Linked DNA regions of Homo sapiens. The protein of the gene in region 1 interacts with the protein of each later gene in a biochemical or structural test. Each region holds a gene or a part of one and is shown in the gene's direction. Other genes may lie near its edges.

Region 1 (3,097 bases):
TGGGATTACAGGTATAAGCCAACACGCCCGGGCCACACATTTTTTTTAAGGTGTCCTATGGGGCACAACAGGACCAGAGAAGCCATAGGGAGCTAGCTTTTGGCTTAAGAACCAACTGAAGCTGCCAGAAATGATGAGTCATTTTGCAGTTGGTGGAAAGTCAAGCAGAAATCAGAGGCGGCTGCTGCAGCTGTTTGTTGTAAAGGGGATTCTGACCCCTCCTGATCTTATCATAGAATGATTTAATTGTAATTTTTCTGTTTTGGTTAATAGAGAACTTTGATCGAAAAAGAAGCCTGCCCTCATCATCTCCTTCCCCGCTCTCCAAAGTAAGCCCTGTAGGTTGGGGTGGAGGGTAGATCTTTGAGATACATCAGTGAGTAAAACACAACCCTCTAGCAGTCCCTGGCACATACTAGACACCCAATTATCTGAATGAAGCATGAATAAAATCTCATTTTTTTTTTTTGAGACAGAGTCTCCCGCTGTTGTCCAAGCTGGAGTGCAATGGTATGTTCTCAGCTCACTGGAACCTCTGCCTCCCAGGTTCAAGTGAGTCTCCTGCCTCAGTCTCTCAAGTAGCTGGGACTACAGGTGTGTGCTACCACACCTGGCTAATTTTTATATTTTTAGTAGAGAATGAGGTTTCACCATTTTGGCCAGGCTGGTCTCGAACTCCTGACCTCAAGTGATCCGCCCACCTTGTACTCCCAAAGTGCTGGGATTTCAGGCATGAGCCACCAAGCCCGGCCAAAATCTCAAGTGTTTTAATGTTATTGCACTTTGCCTCGAGATGAGCTGCGACTGTCAGATACAGTTGATTTGCTTGTTTGGGTAGTGTTATCAGACGTATTTTTGCATGTAATGAGTCACCTGATAATTTTCCATATTTTAAAGAGAAAGGCTCCATTGTGGAACTGTTGCAAGTATATGACTGAAAGGTCTGAAGTTAGTTGAACTGGGTAACTAGGAGGTTCTGTGCTGGTGGTATTCTCACTTAGAAAGGAAGGAGATGTGGTCTTGTGGTTAGTAAGACACATGATAACCAGAGGACTAAAAATCTAATTTTAGTCAGGCTGCTAAACAGTGCGATTTGAAGTAGAGCCCACACTGTGCTCACCTTCCATTGCTTGATTTCCTACTCATCACCTAACAAATGTTCCGGACACGTGTGGGCAGCCATTTAGCTGCTGATCCAGGATCACACCATACCCAGGTCCACCCTTCTAATTGTCTCAACTAAAACAGCCAGTTAGGCTTGTAATTCTATTACAAAAAAATCAATCCTGTTTCCTGTTCTATGCCTCTTCGGTATTCAAGATCATCATTTCTTTACATGGATGGTCTGGGAGTTGATATGAATTAGGAGTATTTAAAGATGTTGGAGAGTTTGGCATAATAGAAGTGACAGCTAATGCTTACAACAATACATAGCAAAATAAATAAGCACAGATCCCAGGTCTGGAAGGGGAGGGTATTGGCAAGCAGCAAAGGGTTGGAATTAACTTTTGTTACAATATGTGACCATATAACAGCTGTCACCCTCTCACCAATTATTCCTGTGTATATGGGTTGGTCTCTTCTAGTAGCTTTGAATCTTTGGATAGTGATAAAAATAGTGTTATATTAACATTCTCCAGAGAGACAGATCTAGTAGGATATAGATACAGGTATGAGAGGAGATTAATTAGGGGAATTGGCTTGTATGATTATGGAGGCTGAGAAGCCCCACGACAGGCTGTCTTCAAGCTTGAGACCCTGGGATGCCAGTAGTGTGGCTCCGTCCAAATCTGACTGAGCCACATTACTGGCATCACCCCTGATTGGCAGTCCTACTTGTTTGCTTCTGTGCATTTGGCCTGAGAATCTGGGGGGCTGCGGCTGTAGATCTTAGAGTCCAAAGGCCGGAGAACCAGGAATTCTGATGTCCAAGCACAGGAGAGGAAGAGGGTATCCCAGCTCTAGCAGACAGACTGACACCTTTGCCTTTTCTGTAGTTCACTCAGACTCGCATGCTAATCCCCTCTGGAACCACCTTCACAGACACACACCAAAATAATGCTTTGCCGGGCTTCTAGGTATTCCTTAATCCAGTCAAGTTGGCATCTAAAATTAACTATCACAAGTGTCTTGTGTTTTACTTTTTCTAATGTGTTTAAGGAGCTCTGAAGACCATCTTACCGAAAGGAAAAGCCAGAAGAATGTACTCTGCATGAGGTACCGGCTAGTCGGTCAGATATGTCATTTCCCAACAGGGAGATTATGTATAGCTTGTTCAGTGACTTGCTCACTATCATGAACTCACTCAAAAGAAACTAGCAATTTTTTAGACTTCTTTTGGGATCCTTGTACCGCATCCTATACTGCTTTTATGTTCATGTGTGCATTTGTGTACATGTATACACATATTACTCCATAACGAAGCACAGTCTTCTTTTATACCTTTCCTGGTTGGGGTAGTAGAGGAATTTTACAGCCTACAATCAGACACATCCAGAAGAAGAGTGGAATATGTATGATACCTTAAAAATCAGCACATTTAACAAAGTATAACTTACTCATGGTTACAACTAAGTTAATGTTTTTTCCCTTTATTTTTCAAAAGGCTCATTTTTCTCCATTTCTCTACTATCAAAGTCAAGAACTGCCCAATGGCTCTGTCAAGGAGGCTCCAGCTCCTACTCCCACTTCTCTGGAAGTCTCAAGTCCACCAGATACTACAGAGGAAGTAGATCATAAGCCTAAACTCTGCAGGCTGGCTAAAGGTGAAAATGGCTATGGCTTTCACTTAAATGCGATTCGGGGTCTGCCAGGCTCATTCATCAAAGAGGTATGGTAATCTGGTTCCAGCAGCCCAACAAACACAGCCACAATTAGGATAGTCTCAGCTTTTCCCACCCATTGATGGCTTAGTAGAGAGGTTCCATTGAAGGCACACACTGAGGGGTCTCACTTGGGTTCAGATAAATGTTGTCATGGTCCCACACCCTTTAGGTTAGCTACCAGTACATCATAAGCTCACGTTTGTTTGTTTCCCAAACATCTGTTCCAAACAGTGTGAGTTGACTGAACTCTAGTTGACAGTCACTATCAACCC
Region 2 (3,755 bases), on another chromosome or scaffold:
TTCTTAAGTTGTTGAAAAAAGCAAAATGAAAATAATATTTCATGATACATGAAAATTATGACATTCAAATTATAGTATCTATAAGTAAAGTATATAATTAAGTAAATAAATAAAACCATGCCGGGGTTGGGCTAGGTGGCTCACTCCTGTAATCCCAGCACTTTGGGAGGCTGAGGCGGGCAGATTGCCTGGGGTCAGGAGTTCTAGTCCAGCCTGGCCAACATGGTAAAACCCTGTTTCTACTAAAAGTACAAAAATTAGCTGGGCATGGTGGTAGGTGCCTGTGATCCCAACTACTCGTGAGGCTGAGGCAGGAGAATCACTTGAACTCCGGAGGCAAAGGTTGTAGTGAGCCGTGATCACACCACTGCACTCCAGCCTGGGCAACAGAGTGAGACTCCGTTTCAAAAAAAAAAAAAACCCATGCCCATTTGTATGTGTATTTTATGGCTGCTTTCCCATACAATGGCAGAGTTGAGTAGCTGCAACAGAGACTGTATGGTCCTCAAGGCCAAAAACATTTATTATCTGCCTCTTTAGAGAGAAAGTGTGCTTTCCTCTGCTTTAGACACTTTAACACAATTGTGGCTTGGAAGCTACAGAGACCTCCACAAAAGTTTGGTGGAAAAAATAATAAAACTAAACCATATTCAAGATGTTCTTTTACAACACAGACCATCTCTGGACATTTGAAGACAGTTGGGAAAAATGTTGCGACAACACCAAATTTAAGTCTAGAAGAAAATAAGTTAGACCAAATTCAAAGTATTCAAGGAAACAAGACCAAGAAATACTAAGAAAAATAACAGGCCGGGGGCAGTGGCTTGCACCTGTAGTCCCAGCATTTTGGGAGGTAGAGGGAGGAGGATCACTTGAGCCCAGGAGTTCAAGACCAGCCTGAGCAATCTAGTGAGACCTCGTCTCTACGAAAAATTTAAAAATTAGTCAGGTGTGGTGGTATGTGCCTGTAGTCCCAGCCACTTGGGAGGCTGAGGTGGAAGAATCGCTTGAGCCTAGGAGGATGAGGCTGCAGTGAGCCGTGATCACGTCGCTGCACTCCAGCCTGAGCGACAGAGCAAGACCCTGTCTCAAAAAATAAATAAATAAATAAAATTGTAAAATTAAAAAAGAAAAATCACTGTTCAGGGAGCTTGACTTAAAACATTACAGATGATAGTTGGATCAGATGACCTCTAATGTCCCTCCAACCCTGAAATTCTGTTTCTTCTAGTCTGTGAAGGTCTATGTTAGCACCTTAGTAATTCAAAGTGTGAATTTCTTAAAATGTGAATGCACCAATAAGAACACATCTCTTGCCAAGTAACAACCATGTTAGCTTTTTCTTCTCTTTTTTTCCAAATTTGCTTTGGAACAGAAAGAAAACCACAGATCTGAAGATTTCAACGAGACCTGTTAAGCCCCACAGACTTTGTCGCACCTGCTGTTACAAAATTGGAAAAAGCTAGAAACCCAGAGAGTCTCCTAGGAAACAAACTATGGATATTGGTCTTGCCTATCACAGGAGTGCTATTACAATATTCCCCAAGCTAAAGGTCTCACACATAAAAACTGACTCTGAGGGAAATAGAAGAAGTAGTAGAACACAGGAGAGACCAACCTTAACAGTTATCTTCAGTAAGAGCCACAGCTCCTCCCCCAGTTCATAAGGAAGCTGGAAGCAGATATCTCTACAAATAAGCAGGCAAATAATAAATTAAGTTTCCATAGTTTGACTCTTTACTTTGATCCAGCCAAAAGTAATTAGTTGGGTCTTCTGCCACGAGCTCTTCACAATAATTGCTGCTGACCTATGAGATATTCAAGATTCCTTAGGAATAGATTTGTATCCTTTCTCTCCGTCTGCAAGAAGAGTTTTTGATGGATGCTGACACCTTCAGGTGAGTTCCTCTTCTCAAAATAGCACCTGCCACTGTTCTAATCCCATTTTTCAGAGATAAATGTTAAGTCCAAACATTGTGTAAGGGGTTTCTCTACTCTGAGTCACTTCATCTCTCAATATTCTTACTTGTTTAGTTACTCAGTATAGTTCTTTTTCTGCTGTCACAAAAATTTTCTTTGCTGTTCTGCTCATATGACTATGTAACTACCATTTAGCCTTTTTATAAATAGTGGCTAATAGGCCAAGCATGTTGGCTCACACCTGTAATCCCAGCACTTTGGGATGCCAAGACGGGCGGATCACCTGAGGTCAGGAGTTCAAGACCAGCCTAACCAACATGGTAAAACCCCATCTCTACTAAAAATACAAAAATTAGCTGGGGGTGGTGGTACACGCCTGTAATCCCAGCTACTTGGGAGGCTGAGGCAGGAGAATCACTTGAACCTGAGAGATGGAGGTTGCAGTGAGCCAAGATGGCACAACTGCATTCCAGCCTGGGCAACAGAGAGAGACTCCATCTCAAAAATAAAAATTAAAATTAAAAAAATTAAAAAATTAAAAAATAGTGGCTAATATTGGATAACACTATTTCCCCCAGGCCTTTAATTGGCTAAATTTTTCTCCAAAGCTATTCTCCATTAAAAGTCCATTCACTGGTTTTAATACCAACCAGACTAGGAAGAGCATCTTCGAGTTCTGTGGTGGTGCCACCCTTGCTCTGTTCTTTTTGTCCTCACCAGGTCCCTTCCACCTATAAGACAAGTTCTCTGCCCAAAATTTGAAAAATGGACATGAGTAAAGCTATAACCTGATTTCTTTGTTGGCAAATATTTTAAACAGACAATTCTAACTCATTGCTAATAAGGGTTTTACATTTTAATAGAAATTGTCTCATGTCTCTCAATTTAATAACTCAAACTTTTCTCATATTATATATGTATATATTTGTTCCATTGTTATTCATCTTTAAATTATTTTCCATTTTATATGTCTTATTGTGAAATTTATTTTAAAAAGAAATTAATTATATTAGTTTTCCAAATATTTGAAATGCTTTTTATAAATAAAAAAGTGTGCTTTGAGTCGATTTTCAGAAAATAATAAAATTTTTAAAGTTTTCTTCATGGCCATTTGAAAGATGGGTTAGGGATACAGTTTGGGACCAGAATTAAGTAAAATTCATTTGCTGAAATGAGGTTAAGCCTGTGCCCTTCGCCTCATTAGAAAAGATGTCTAATCTCCTTGGTTGCTCAAAATTATACACTTTTATTTAGTTTGTGGTCCCCTAATATTTCTCATATATTTTTCAAACATTCATGTACTAGATGGTCTTTATTTTATTTTGTTTATTTATTATTTATTTATTTATTTTGAGATGGAGTTTCATTCTTGTTGCCCAGGCTGGAGTGCAATCGCACGATCTCAAGTCACTGCAACCTCTGCCTTCCGGGTTCAAGCTACTCTCCTGCCTCAGCCTCCTGTGTAGCTGGGATTACAGGCTCATACCACTATGCCCAGCTAATTTTTGTATTTTTAGTAGAGACGAGGTTTCACCATGTTGGCCACACTGGTCTCAAACTCCTGACATCAGGTGATCCACCAGCCTTGGCCTCCCAAAGTGTTAGGATTACGGGCATGAGCCACCGCGACCGGCCTCTAGATGGTCTTTAATATTTGATATCAGATGAGAATTCAAAAACACATTTAATCAATATATTCAAAGACTAAGTATCTGTGAAATAAAAACACTACTAAGCCTTCAGGCTTTTTTCTTTTTTTTTGAGTTGGAGTTTTGCTCTTGTTGCCCAGACTGGAACGCAATGGTGTGCTCTCAGTTCACTGTAATCTCAGCCTC

The links. Proteins that work in one complex are often made in the same cells at the same time.
Region 2: the proteins of PDZK1 (region 1) and OR10G3 interact in a test that uses a peptide from one of them, tested with the Homo sapiens proteins (one large-scale study listed by IntAct).

What each region holds. Positions count from the first base shown.
Region 1 is NC_000001.11:145,673,390-145,676,486, reverse strand, and holds part of PDZK1 (Na(+)/H(+) exchange regulatory cofactor NHE-RF3), read left to right. Parts: intron 1-273; coding exon of another isoform or gene 274-329; intron 330-2,160; coding exon of another isoform or gene 2,161-2,217; intron 2,218-2,605; coding exon 2,606-2,830; intron 2,831-3,097. UniProt on the Homo sapiens protein: A scaffold protein that connects plasma membrane proteins and regulatory components, regulating their surface expression in epithelial cells apical domains.
Region 2 is NC_000014.9:21,577,929-21,581,683, reverse strand, and holds the start of OR10G3 (olfactory receptor 10G3), read left to right. Parts: upstream 1-1,607; 5' UTR 1,608-1,898; intron 1,899-3,755. UniProt on the Homo sapiens protein: Odorant receptor.